2 linked regions of the Homo sapiens genome follow. The protein of the gene in region 1 purifies or fractionates together with the protein of each later gene. This does not show direct contact. Each region holds a gene or a part of one and is shown on either strand. Other genes may lie near its edges. The genes, in order: NINL and NKAP.

What was found.
Region 2: the proteins of NINL (region 1) and NKAP purify together in Homo sapiens (affinity purification with mass spectrometry; 2 studies listed by BioGRID and IntAct, with this or other methods). This does not show direct contact.

What each region holds. Positions count from the first base shown.
Region 1 is NC_000020.11:25,452,193-25,456,815, reverse strand, and holds the end of NINL (ninein-like protein), read left to right. Parts: intron 1-1,029; coding exon 1,030-1,143; intron 1,144-3,173; coding exon 3,174-3,365; 3' UTR 3,366-4,119; downstream 4,120-4,623. UniProt on the Homo sapiens protein: Involved in the microtubule organization in interphase cells. Overexpression induces the fragmentation of the Golgi, and causes lysosomes to disperse toward the cell periphery; it also interferes with mitotic spindle assembly.
Region 2 is NC_000023.11:119,940,530-119,948,213, forward strand, and holds the start of NKAP (NF-kappa-B-activating protein), read right to left. Parts: upstream 3,223-7,684; 5' UTR 3,077-3,222; coding exon 2,691-3,076; intron 1-2,690. UniProt on the Homo sapiens protein: Acts as a transcriptional repressor. Plays a role as a transcriptional corepressor of the Notch-mediated signaling required for T-cell development. Also involved in the TNF and IL-1 induced NF-kappa-B activation.

The sequences.
Region 1 (4,623 bases):
GGACTACAGGTGCCTGCCACCATGCCTGGTTAATTTTTTGTATTTTTGGTAGAGACGGGATTTCACCATGCTGGCCAGGCTGGTCCTGAACTCCTGACCTCAGGTGATCTACCCGCCTTGGCCTCCCAAAGTGCTGGGATTACAGGTGTAAACCACCTCACTAGGCCACTAATTTCCATTTTAAAATAAATAGCCTTGAGCTGATTCTTTTTAAAATGTAAAATATTGCCTGTAACCTTTTTGTTTTTGTTTTTTGTGTTTTTTTTTTGAGACGGAGTCTTGCTCTGTCACCCAGACTGGAGTGCAATGGCACAATCTTGGCTCACTGCAACCTCCGCCTCCTGGGTTCAAGCAATTATTCTGCCTCGGCCTCCCGAGTAGCTGGGACTACAGGCGCCCGCTACCATGCCCGGCTGATTTTTTGTATTTTAGTAGAGATAGGGTTTCACTGTGCTGCCCAGGCTGGTCTCGAACTCCTGAGCTCAGGTAATCCGCCCGCCTCAGACTCCCAAAGTGCTAGGATTACAGTTGTGAACCACTGCACCTGGCTTTTTTTTTTTTTTTTTTTTTTTTTGAGATGGAGTCTCACTCTGTCACCAGGCTGGAATGCAGTGGTGCTATTTCGGCTCACAGCAACCTCTGCCTCTTGGGTTCAAGTGATTCTCCTGCCTCAGCCTCCCAAGTAGCTGGGACTACAGGTGCACGCTACCACGCCCAGCTAATTTTTCTTTTTTTTTTGAGACTGAGTCTTGCTCTGTCACCTAGGCTGGAGTGCCACTGCAACCTCCACCTCCTGGGTTCAAGTGATTCTCCTGCCTCAGCCTCCCAAGTAGCTGGGATTACAGGTACGCACCACCACACACGGCTAATTTTTCTATTTTTTTTAGTAGAGATGGGGTTTCACCATGTTGGCCAGGTTGGTCTCAAACTCCTGACCTCAGGTGATCCGCCCGCCTCGGCCTCCCAAAGTGCTGGGATTAGAGGCGTGAGCCACCATGCCCGGCCACCTGCAACCTTCTTTTATGGCAGGAAGAACATGAGAAACAGCTGAAAGCCACAGAAGAGCGGGTGGAAGAGGCGGAGATGATTCTGAAGAATATGGAAATGCTCCTCCAAGAGAAAGTGGATAAGCTGAAGGAGCAGGTGAGTGATGGGCGCTGCTGCTTTCGTGTTCACGTCCTCTTCTGAACGCTCTCCACTTTTATGGGTGTGCAGGTAGCTAATACAGGAAAAGGCTGTCTTGTCACAGAATTCCAGGGAACTAAATGTATACCCTACACTGCAGGTGCACATTCATTTATTTTCCTCCGGGAATGGTTTTAAGATCTGTCCTTTGGGTGTTCACATACACTCAGAAAGGACTCATCCGTTCATTTGTTCATGTAGTCATTCAGGCATCCCCAAGCACCTCTGGTCTAAGCTTTCCCAGGTAGACCTGAGATGAGCAGGGCTGAGCCTGCATCCCAGACCTGACCCTCTGGAGACAGAGGCAGATGCTTCCATAGAGCATACATGACCTCGGGCCATGATGAGTGCTCTGAAAATGAGAGAATAGAGGTGGAAGGAGCCGGTGGGGTGGTCAAGGCCACTTTGAAGAGCCAGCATTTGGTCAGATGCCCAGTGACCAGCACAGGAACGTCCAGCTGTGTCCCCAGCAGAGGCCAGGTGGCATTTGGAAGGCTCAGTGGGTGGGAGATGCACACATCTCCTCGTGTCTGGGGGACTCCGAGGAGGGTGCATTCCAGGCAGCGGACAGCCATGGAGGAGGCCGCCATGGCTGGTGTGAACTGGTAGGGCTCAGGTAGGCAGTGCCTGTCGTGTGTATCCTAGAAGCCAAGGTCAGGGGTTTGGGTTTTATCATAATGGCAGTTAGAAGGCATAGGGAGATTTTAAGTAAAAGCATGACAGGATCTATCTTTTAAAAGAAACCATACTAGGGAAAAAGTCACTTGGGCTACTGTAAGGAGCAAAGACCAAAAATGAGGTGCCATAACTCACCTGGTCTGTAGATGTTCGAAGTCCAACTCAGCAGGTGGGAACTGACGTGCAGCAGTGCTGTGCCCTGAGGGCTGATGGCACAGGGTGTGGGTGGACCCCACGGGTGTGGGGTGCACACACAGAAGAGGCCCGGCCACGGACCACATTCAGTGTTAGGATTAAGAGAAATATGAAAACCTGGAGAAGTATTTTTGCTCCATCGTGATCCAGTATGGTTTGGTCTACATGAGGGATCCTGAGCTCAGCCCAAGCTAGACAAGGCATTTGTGGAAGGTTCCCAGTCCCTCCCTGGGGCCACCCGTCCTTGCCCAGCTTCCTCCCCTACTGGTGCCCCCGGTCCCTCTCACCCTTTCTCCCTGGCACACACCCACAGTCCTCAGTTGCCCGTCTCGCCAGCAACACCTGACTTCTGGTTCAATCCTGTGGCTCCTGCATACCTGCCCTGGCCCTGAGCACAGGCCACAGCCCAGGGCCTCAGTACTGCCTGTCCTGCGCCTGCTCCCTCCCCTGCTTCTCTTGGCTCCTGGCCTTGCTGACATCACAGCCAGTAGCGCATACGCAGATGAACCTGTTCCACACTCTGACCGTCCCAGGGCCTTTTGAGGACTGGCCACTTTTGCCTGAAGTCCTTGTTTCACGGCACAAAGCTGCCTCAAGTTTTCTCCATCACATAGCCCAGCAGATTCTCAATTTCCTCTCATGCCAGGGTAACAAAACTTGTCATTATAATCCAGTATTTGTGTCAGATTTCTTTTTTTTTTGGAGACAGAGTCTTGCTCTGTCGCCTAGGCTGGATGGAGTGCAGTGGTGCGATCTCTGCTCACTGCAAGCTCCACCTCCCGGGTTCACACCATTCTCCTGCCTCAGCCTCCCGGGTAGCTGGGACTACAGGCGCCCGCCACCACGCCCAGCTAATTTTTTTGTATTTTTTAGTAGAGATGGGGTTTCACCGTGTTCGCCAGGATGGTCTCGATCTCCTGACCTTGGGATCTGCCCACCTCAGCCTCCCAAAGTGCTGGGATTACAGGCGTGAACCACTGCCCCCGGCCTTGGGTCAGATTTCTAAGAGCCCAAAACTGTGGTTTGCGTAAACCTGGGAGGATAAAAGAGAGCAGGCTGATCTGTAGCGTTTCTCCACCGGCCTCATGCAAAGCATGGCTTCCTCCCCTCTCTAGTTTGAAAAGAACACGAAGTCCGACCTGCTGCTGAAGGAGCTGTACGTGGAGAACGCCCACCTGGTGAGAGCACTTCAGGCCACCGAGGAGAAGCAGCGAGGCGCCGAGAAACAAAGCCGCCTCTTGGAAGAAAAAGTTCGCGCTCTCAACAAACTCGTCAGTAGGATTGCCCCCGCAGCCCTCTCTGTGTAAAGACAGATTATTTTCTAGGATTCATTCGAAAGCACATCTTTTAAATTAAGCCACTGTGCTGCCTTAGATTCCGTGGGTCATGAGCCATGAGTCCTGGGACATCTGAGGATTGGGATTCTTTGTTCACCCCGCAGATAGTTAATGAATGGTCTGCCCTGGGCAAGATGGAGGTGGGGGCTGGGGGAATATGCATGTTGCAGAAGCCGGCGTTTTTATTAGCGGTCCTGAGTAATTTCCCTTGGCAAAATTCCCAGTTTTGCCACTCTCTGGAGCCAGATCCTGGGAGCTGTCAGCAAGGAGCAGGTAAGTGAGCAGTTATGGACAGCACTTTCCATGTGGTGCTTCCGACCCTGGCTGTCAGAGTGAAATGTAAAGTCAGGGCTCTGTACAGTTTTGCCATTTCACTGTTCTGCTTTAAGCTTAGCTTATTAGAACTCTTGGTGGAGGGTGCGTACACACATTCCAGAAAAGGCTTCACTCGCTGGGAACGTCAACCCAGCGAGAAAGGAGGGGAAGCCCCTTCTCCGGGGACCTTATCTGTGGACTCAGGAATGATGGTGTTTATTGCAAATGCACAATCTTTTTCCCATTGAAATGTCATCACACTGGAAATTGTACTATATGTAAAAAAAAAAAAAAGTATAGTTTTATATTTGAAATGTATGCAAATTATGGCCATATGGCTGATTGGAATGTACTACTGTAATATAAAAAGTCACTGTATTTGCAATAAATTCTTTTCTATTAAAATTGACTTCTAAGTTTGTTTTTAATTTTTTAAACTATAAAATATTTCAAACATAGAGGAAAATAGTTATGTAAGAAACACCCATGTGCCCATCAACATATCTAGTAAGAATAATATCCTGCCACAGCACTGTGGAGGGCGGGAGCCTGTTCTGTTCTCAGCCTCCTCCCTCTTCCCGGGGCAGCCGCCATCCCAAAGCTGGCATGTCTTCTCCTTTCTGCAGGAGAAAAATGTCACAGCACCGTGGAAAGATAACAAAGCCTGGAACAGATGGAAAGGTCGGTTCTTTGGAAGATTCGGCAACATGAAGTTGACTGGTTCTTCAAAGTTTACTGATGATAAATGTAATTAATCCCAATATAAATACAGATGTTACATGCCCCAATCAACCCCAGAATTGGACAAGACATTCTAAAGTTTTTACATACAACTAAATAAGCAAACAAAACAATTAGGAAAACTCTGAAGAAAGAAGAGCAATGTATGGGGACTAGTTCTACCAGTTATTAA
Region 2 (7,684 bases), on another chromosome or scaffold:
ATTCCTCATAAACTAAAAAACAAAACAAAACAAAGACTAAGGCTCATTCTCTCAAATTTTAGCTGCTTGTGACTCCATTTGTTTTTAAAAATCCTTCCAAAATAAATATAATTGCAATGAGTTTTTGTATAAATCGTTTTTGCCTCCTTAATCAGGGGAAAAGGTATTATAACTATGCAGAGTCAGACTGAGAGGGTTTCCCACCTGAAGTAACAGACAATTTAAAAGGTAACATATTTATAGCTGTACTTGGAATGTATGGATATCGGGGGAAGAACGCCTACCAGGCTGTAAATAGCAGGAAGTCCTGTTGTCACCTGGTTTCATCTGTAATGTTAAGATAAATTATTGGCCGGGCCCAGCACTTTGGGAGGCTGAGGCTGGTGGATCACCTGAGGTCAGGAGTTCGAGACCAGCCTGGCCAACATGGCGAAACCCCGTCTCTACTAAAAACACAAAAATTAGCTGGGTGTGGTGGTGCATACCTGTAATCCCAGCTATTCAGGAGATTGAGGCAGAAGAACCACTTGAACCCAGGAGGTGGAGGCTGCAGTGAGCCGAGACTGCACCACTGCATTCCAGCCTGGGAGACAGAGTGAGACTCCATCTCAAAAAAAAAAAAAAAGATAAATTATTTATTTTCTAAATGTACATATGCAAGTTTCATCCAAGCACTTCTGACATCTTTTGGTGAGGATTCTCCAAGAAGAAACTATTTACTTTTTGACTGACATAGCCTGTGGGTATGTTTCTGAAAAATGTAACTTGGAGAGATGGGTCTCCAACCTAACTCAGGACTGTTTTTACTGTTTTTGCTCCCATGCATGAAACATTAATAGCTAACACTTATGGAATAGTTATGTTCCAGCCACTTAATTATTACAATCCCCAAATCCCTAGTACTTATTTTATCCCCTTTTTAATCCATAGTACTTATTTTATCCCCCTTTTAATGATGAAGAAATGGAGCCCAGAGAGGTTAAGTAACTTGACCAAGGTCACACAGCTATTAAGTGGCAAATAAAGGCTTCATACTCAGTCTGATTCTGGAGTTTGTCCTTTTCCTTTCTTTCTTCCTGTTCTTCTCTTTGTTTTTTTTTGTTTGTTTGTTTTTGAGACAGCATCTCCCTCTGTCACCCAAGCTGGAGTGCAGTGGTGAGATCATGGCTCATGGCAGCCTTGACCTCTCCAGCTCAAGTGATCCTCCCACTTCAGCATCCCCAGTACCTGAAATTACAAGCACATGCCACCACGCCCAGCTGATTTTTAAAACACTTTTTGTAGAGACAGGGTATCCCTATATTGCCTAGGCTGGTCTTGAACTCCTGGATTCAAGTGATCCTCCTGCCTTGGCCTCCTAAAGTGTTGGGATTACAGGCATGAGCCTCTGTGCCCAGCCAAAAAATGCATAGTTTTAAGGAGAAAGGAAAAGGCTCATAATTATTGCTGTGTAAGTCTTAATATCTTGTTTATTGTTAAATTATGTGTCAGGCACTGTACTAAGTTATTTACGTGCACTTATATGTTTAAAAAAATGAGAAACTTAGAAATATTACAGGCATTGAGAGGTAGGTTAAAGTTCCAACAGTTGGGAGATGTCTTGAGTCTTTTTCTTCCGGCAGTGGGAGGTAATAAAGTATAGTGATGAAAAGGACAGGCTCGGCAGGGCATGTGGGGTCATACCTGTAATCTCAGCACTTCCGGAGGCCAACGTGGGAGGATCACTTGAGCCCAGAAATTCGATACCAGCCTGGGCAACATGGTGAAACCCTGTCTCTACCAAAAAATACGAAAATAAGCCGGGTGTGGTGGTGCGCACCTATAGTCCCAGCTATGAGGGAGGCTGAGGTGGGAGGATCACTTGAGCCCAAGAAGGTGGAGGCTGCAGTGAGCCAAGATTGCACCACTGCACTCCAACCTGGGCGACAGAGCTAGACCCTGTCTCAAAAACAAAACAAAACAATCCCCAAGCTATGCATTTTTCCACTCCAATACTCACTTTGATTAGAGATCTAGTCTCATCCTGGCGTCATTTTTCGAGGTCAAGACTGAGACCACTTAACAAGACCTTCCTCAAAGTGGGGTCATCTATAGCTTATCAGATCACTTTTCCTACATGCATCTAATCGTCTTGTCTGAGGGGAAGGTTTATTTCCTCTCCAACTTAAACCCTTGATTTCATTCCTTCCTAATTCCCCACAAAACGTTTCTACATAAATATCCTGTTATCTCAGACCTGTAAGTTCCTTCATTCAACAAGCAATGGTTGAGCGCCTATAAAGTACCAGGCACTTAGAATTCTGTGATCAGAATTCTCCTCCGTTCACTGGCTCCTCCTTTCCATGAGCTCAGTCTAGTGGGGAATACAAATATATTCACGAATGATAATGACACAACCAGGTAAATGCTACAGTTCTGGTAGGTCTGAACTCTCGGCAATATTCGCTAACAAGACAGGAGGCGGAAGGGGGTAGCGGGAGACCAGGGCACTATATGAAGGGGCCTGAGGGTAAGGGAAAATGAAAAGGACGAATAAAGGGTTGTCGTGGGTGGATTAAAGAAAGGGATGAAAATGGGCGCAAGGCAAGCAGAGTGAGCGAAATGCGAATAGTCAGAAGCGGAATGAATGATAGATCGGACTCCAAAGGCACGTAGGCTCGTACAAGAGAAAGTGCGGCCGTCTCACTCACTTCTGCCGCAGGCTCTCCTCCCTCTCCTTGTCGAGGAGGCTAGGCCAAGGCTTGTCGCTCCCGTAGGGGCGCGAGTAGCTGCCGTAATAGACTGACGAGGAGGCAGAAGCGAAGGGGATGCCCCGGGGCGCAGAGGGCCGCTCTCTAGAACGCGACCGCGAGCGTGAGCGGTAGGACTGGTTTCGGGAGCCTTGGCTGAGGCCACCCAGCTGATGGGTGAGTCCATTCCGGTCCCCGGACCGAGAGCAAGAGTGCGAGCGAGAGCGGCGGCCCCGCGGGGAGCGGGCAGATTTGCTGGGCTTCGGACTCTTCGACGAACTGCGACGTCTTCCCCCCGAGCCCGAGGCCTCCCTATCCGGGCTGCGTGAGCCGGACACCGGAGCCATGGCTACTGGGGGGCCCCAGCAGCCGTGGGACAAGGGGGCGCTCTCGCGAGCCTAGGAAGATGTCTGTTGCCTTGGTTCCCGGGACCTGCCGCTGCGGAACAGCCCAAATCTGAGGAAACCTTGGACACAGTTCTGGGTACTTCTGCAAAACCCTTCCCCGGATCTAGGCGGTCGTCACCGACAGGAAGCGATGTGTGCATCAATATAAATAAGCCGGTGGGGCAACTAGATTGCGTGCATCCTTCCAGTTCCGAGTGAGGCTCCTCAAGTCTAAGCAAGAGACCAAGTTCTTTCTCAGCCTTGAACTTGAAACACTTGAAGGGAAGTATATATTTCAAACACAATATACAGTATACATTTCACTGAGTGGCCGTATGAACAAGACAGTTAATTCTGCTTGTGTTTCCTGTGCTTTCTGTGTGTATTTATATATAAATGTGTGTGTGTGTGTGTATGTCATGTATGAAAGTATGAATGTGTATTTTCTTTTTCTTTCCAATCCCAAGCAAATCGGGAGGGTTTTTCGCGACTGGGGATTAGCTATGGTGTCTAAGCCCCATATTGCCGTGTTAGCTTAGAGGGCGCAAATTTTGTTAATGACTCGCGCCTGATAAACTTCAATTAAGTTTCCCGCCTAGAGAAAAACTGCATACTTATCCCCTAGCCACCGTCTCCACCAATATGCCCCAGCAAAAGGAGGTTTTTTTTTTTTGAGACTGGAACTCACTCTGCTCACTCTGTCGCCCAGGATGGAGTACAGTGGCAAGATCTCAGCTCCCTGCAAACCTCCGCCTCCCCGGGCTCAAGCTATCCTCCCACCTCAGCCTCCTGAATAGCTGGGATTACAGGCGCATGCGACACCAAGCCTGGGTAGTTTTTTTTTTGAGGGGGGTCGGGGGAAACAGGGTTTCACCTTGTTGCCCAGGTGGTCTTGAACTCCTGGGCTCAAGCGATCCGCCAGCCTCGGCCTCCCAAAGTGCTAGGATTATAGGTGTGAGCCACTGCGTCTGGCTTGTATTTTTTTCCCCAAAAAGTGTCATTTTATTTTTTATTTTTTTATTTTTGAGACAAGGGCTCCCTCTGTCATCCAGGCTGGAGTGCAGTGGCTATCCTGGCTCACTGCAACCTCCGCCTCCCAGGTTCAAGTGATTCTCCTGCCTCAGCCTCCTGAGTAGCTGGGATTACAGACATGTGCCATCATGCACAGCTAATTTTTTATTATTTTTTAAATTTGTACAAATCTATGGGATACATGTGAAATTTTGTTACATGTATATAATGTGTAGTGATGACGTCAGGGTATTTAAGGTGTCCATTATCTGAGCACAATACATTTTTGTTAAGTGTACTCTCGGCCTGGTATGGTGGCTCACGTCTGTAATCCCAGCACTTTGGGAGGCAGAGGCGGGTGGATCACTTGAGGTCAGGAGTTTGAGACCAGCCTGGCCAACATGGCGAAACCCTGTCTCCACTAAAAATACAAAAATTAGCTGGGCCTGGTGGCACGTGCCTGTAATCTCAGCTACTAGGGTGGCTGAGGCACGAGAATCGCTTGAACCCGGGAGGCTGAGGTTGCAGTGAGCCGAGAGTGAGATTGCACCACTGCACTCCAGCCTGGGCAACAGAGTGAGACTGTGTTTCCAAAAAAAAATAGTGTACTCTCACTCTACCATGCTGTCAATATCAAACATTGAATTTGGGGCTGGGCATGGTGACTTACACCTGTAACTCCAGAAATTTGGGAGGCCGAGGCGGGCCAATCACTTGAGCCCAGGAGTTGGAGACCAGCCTGGGAAACATAGGGAGACCCTGTCTCTACAAAAAATTTAAAAATTTGGCGAGTGTGGTGGTGCATGCCAGCTACTCAGGAGACTGAGGTGGGAGGAACACTTACTTGAGCCCGGAAATCGAAGTTGCAGTGAGCCGTGATTGATCCACTGCACTCCATGGGCGACAGAGTGAGACACTGTCTTAAAACAACAACAAAAACCATTGAATTTATTTCTTCTATCTTACTGTATGTTTGTACCCTTTAACCTATTTCTCTTCATCCTTCTGCTTCCTCCCACATACCCTACCCAGCCTCTATTATCTATCCAGCAAAAGGAATTTGTAATCCCCTCTTTGTCCAGCTCCTTAAACTAGTCTCATTGTATGCCAGCCCAGCAATATAGAGTTAAGGATCAGTATTCCTATTCTTTTTTTTTTTTTTTTTTTTTTTTTACATGGAGTCTCGCTCTGTAAGCAGGCTGGAGTGCAGTGGCGTGATCTTGGCTCACTGCAATCTCTGCCTCTAGGGTTCAAGCTATTTTCCTGCCTCAGCCTCCTGAGTAGCTGGGATTACAGGGGCGTGCCACCATGCCCAGCTAATTTTTGTAGTTTTAGTAGAGACAGAGTTTCACCATGTTGGCCAGGATGGTCTTGATCTCTTGACCTTGTGATCCGCCCGCCTCAGCCTCTCAAAGTGCTGGGATTACAGGCGTGAGCCACCACGCCCAGCATTTCTATTCATTTTATACTGTTTTTCTTTTCTTTTTTCTTTTGTGAAACAGTGTCTGGCTCCCTCACCCAGACTGGAGTGCAGTGGTGTGATCTTGGCTCACTGCAACCTCCACCTCCTGAGTTCAAGGGATCCTCCCACCTCAGCCTCCTGAGTAGCTGGCATGTGCCATGGTTCGCTAATTTTTAAATTTTTTGTAGACATGGGGTTTTGCCATGTTGCCCAAGCTGGTCTTGAACTCATGGACTCAAGTGATCCTCACACCTCGGCATCTCAATGTGCTGTCATTACAGGCTTGAACCACTGCACCTAGGCCTCTACTGTTTTTAAATCAAAGGGCATTCCAACATTAATTCTACTGATTTCGACTTTTTTTTTTGAGACAGAGTCTTGCTCTGTTGCCCAGGCTGGAGTGCAGTGGCAGGATCTTGGCTCACTGCAACCTCTGCCTCCTGGGTTCAAGCAGTCCTCATGCCTCAGCCTCCCAAGTAGCTGGGATTACAGGTGCCCACCACCATGCCCAGGTAATTTTTGTATTTTTGGTAGAGACTGGGTTTTACCCTGTAAGCCAGGCTGGTCTCAAACTCCTGACCTCCAATGATCTGCCGGCCTCCGCTTCCTAAAGTACTGGGATCACAGGCGTGAGCCTCCATGCACAGCCCTCAATTTGGATTTTTGAAGGTACATAGGTTTGCTGAAGAAATTCCAAGTCCAGCCTGCCAGTAGCATGATGGCCTCTGGGATTTTCCTAAGAAGTAATTTATCAGATCATGAAAATTAATGCCAATTGATTATCAGAAATCTCCTTTTTTTGGAATTTAAGGGAAAGACGTATGAAATAATGTTAAATGGAAAGAGTGGACCACACTATTGGATATCTTCTATGTATAACTAATTTGTCATGGGGCCAGGTCCAAAAACTTAATCGAGTAAGAGAAATTCTGTGATTTGGGATGGAGATTGGGGAGAATTTCTAATAAGAAAGTTTTCAATGGAAAACCTACTGCCTAACTTTTGCGACAACAGGCAGTACACCTTCACATCAGTTGCCTATAAAACCAACTCTGCAACAGTGATTGGTCTACCTGCCCCATGGCTGGTGGACATGTACTTTAGTTGGAAAGAGAAAACCCCTACTCCTGCACATCTGAATGGCATGGTGCTCTTCTTGCCAGGTATCCTGGGAGCAGCCTGTGTTTCATGAGTTGGCAGTGAGGGGGAGCTAGAGCACACAGGGAGGTGCAGACAGCCAGTGGGATCAGGCTTGCAGAGTTTGGGTCCTGCCACTGCACTCCAGCCTGGGCAACCTCTGCCTCCCAGGTTCAAGTGATTCTCCTGCCTCAGCCTCCCAAGTAGCTGGGACTTCAGGCATGCGCCACCATGCCCAGCTAATTTTTGTATTTTTAGTAGAGACAGGATTTCACTGTGTTGGCCAGGCTGGTCTTGAACTCCTGACCTCATGATCCGCCTGCCTCACCCTCCCAAAGTGCTGGGATTACAGGCATGAGCCACCGCGCCTGGCCTATTCTTCTTTAAATTTTTTTTTTTTGAGATGGGGGTCTCACTCTGTCACCCAGGCTAAAGTGCAGTGGCACTATCTTGGCTCACTGCAACCTCCGCCTCCTGGGTTCAAGCGATCTTCCCACCTCAGCCTCCCGAGTAGCGGGGACAACAGGCGCATACCACCATGCCTGGCTAAGTTTTGACATTTTTGGTAGAGACAAGGTTTCGCCATGTTGCCCAGGTGGGTCTGGAACCCCTGAGCTCAAGTGATCCGCCCACCTCGGCCTCCCAAAGTGCTGGGATCACAGGCGTGAGCCACCTCACCTGACCTGATCCATTCTCTACAGGAATTAAACCATTTGTGTGTTATGGGATATGGAGGTATTCAGCTTCCATTCACTACTCCTCTTCAAAGTCTGAGACTCTGCAGCTGTCTGGGCAGGTGCATGGCTAACACCCAGCGGACTGAGGCAGGGATCTGGGTTGTGGAAATGGAATTTAAGGAGTGGGTGTTAGGGGGACTCTTGTAGTTTGTGTCCATTTGAATTTGAGGATGCTTTCCAATTATGCCAACAATTGTTTTAGAGACTGCGAGATTAAAACAA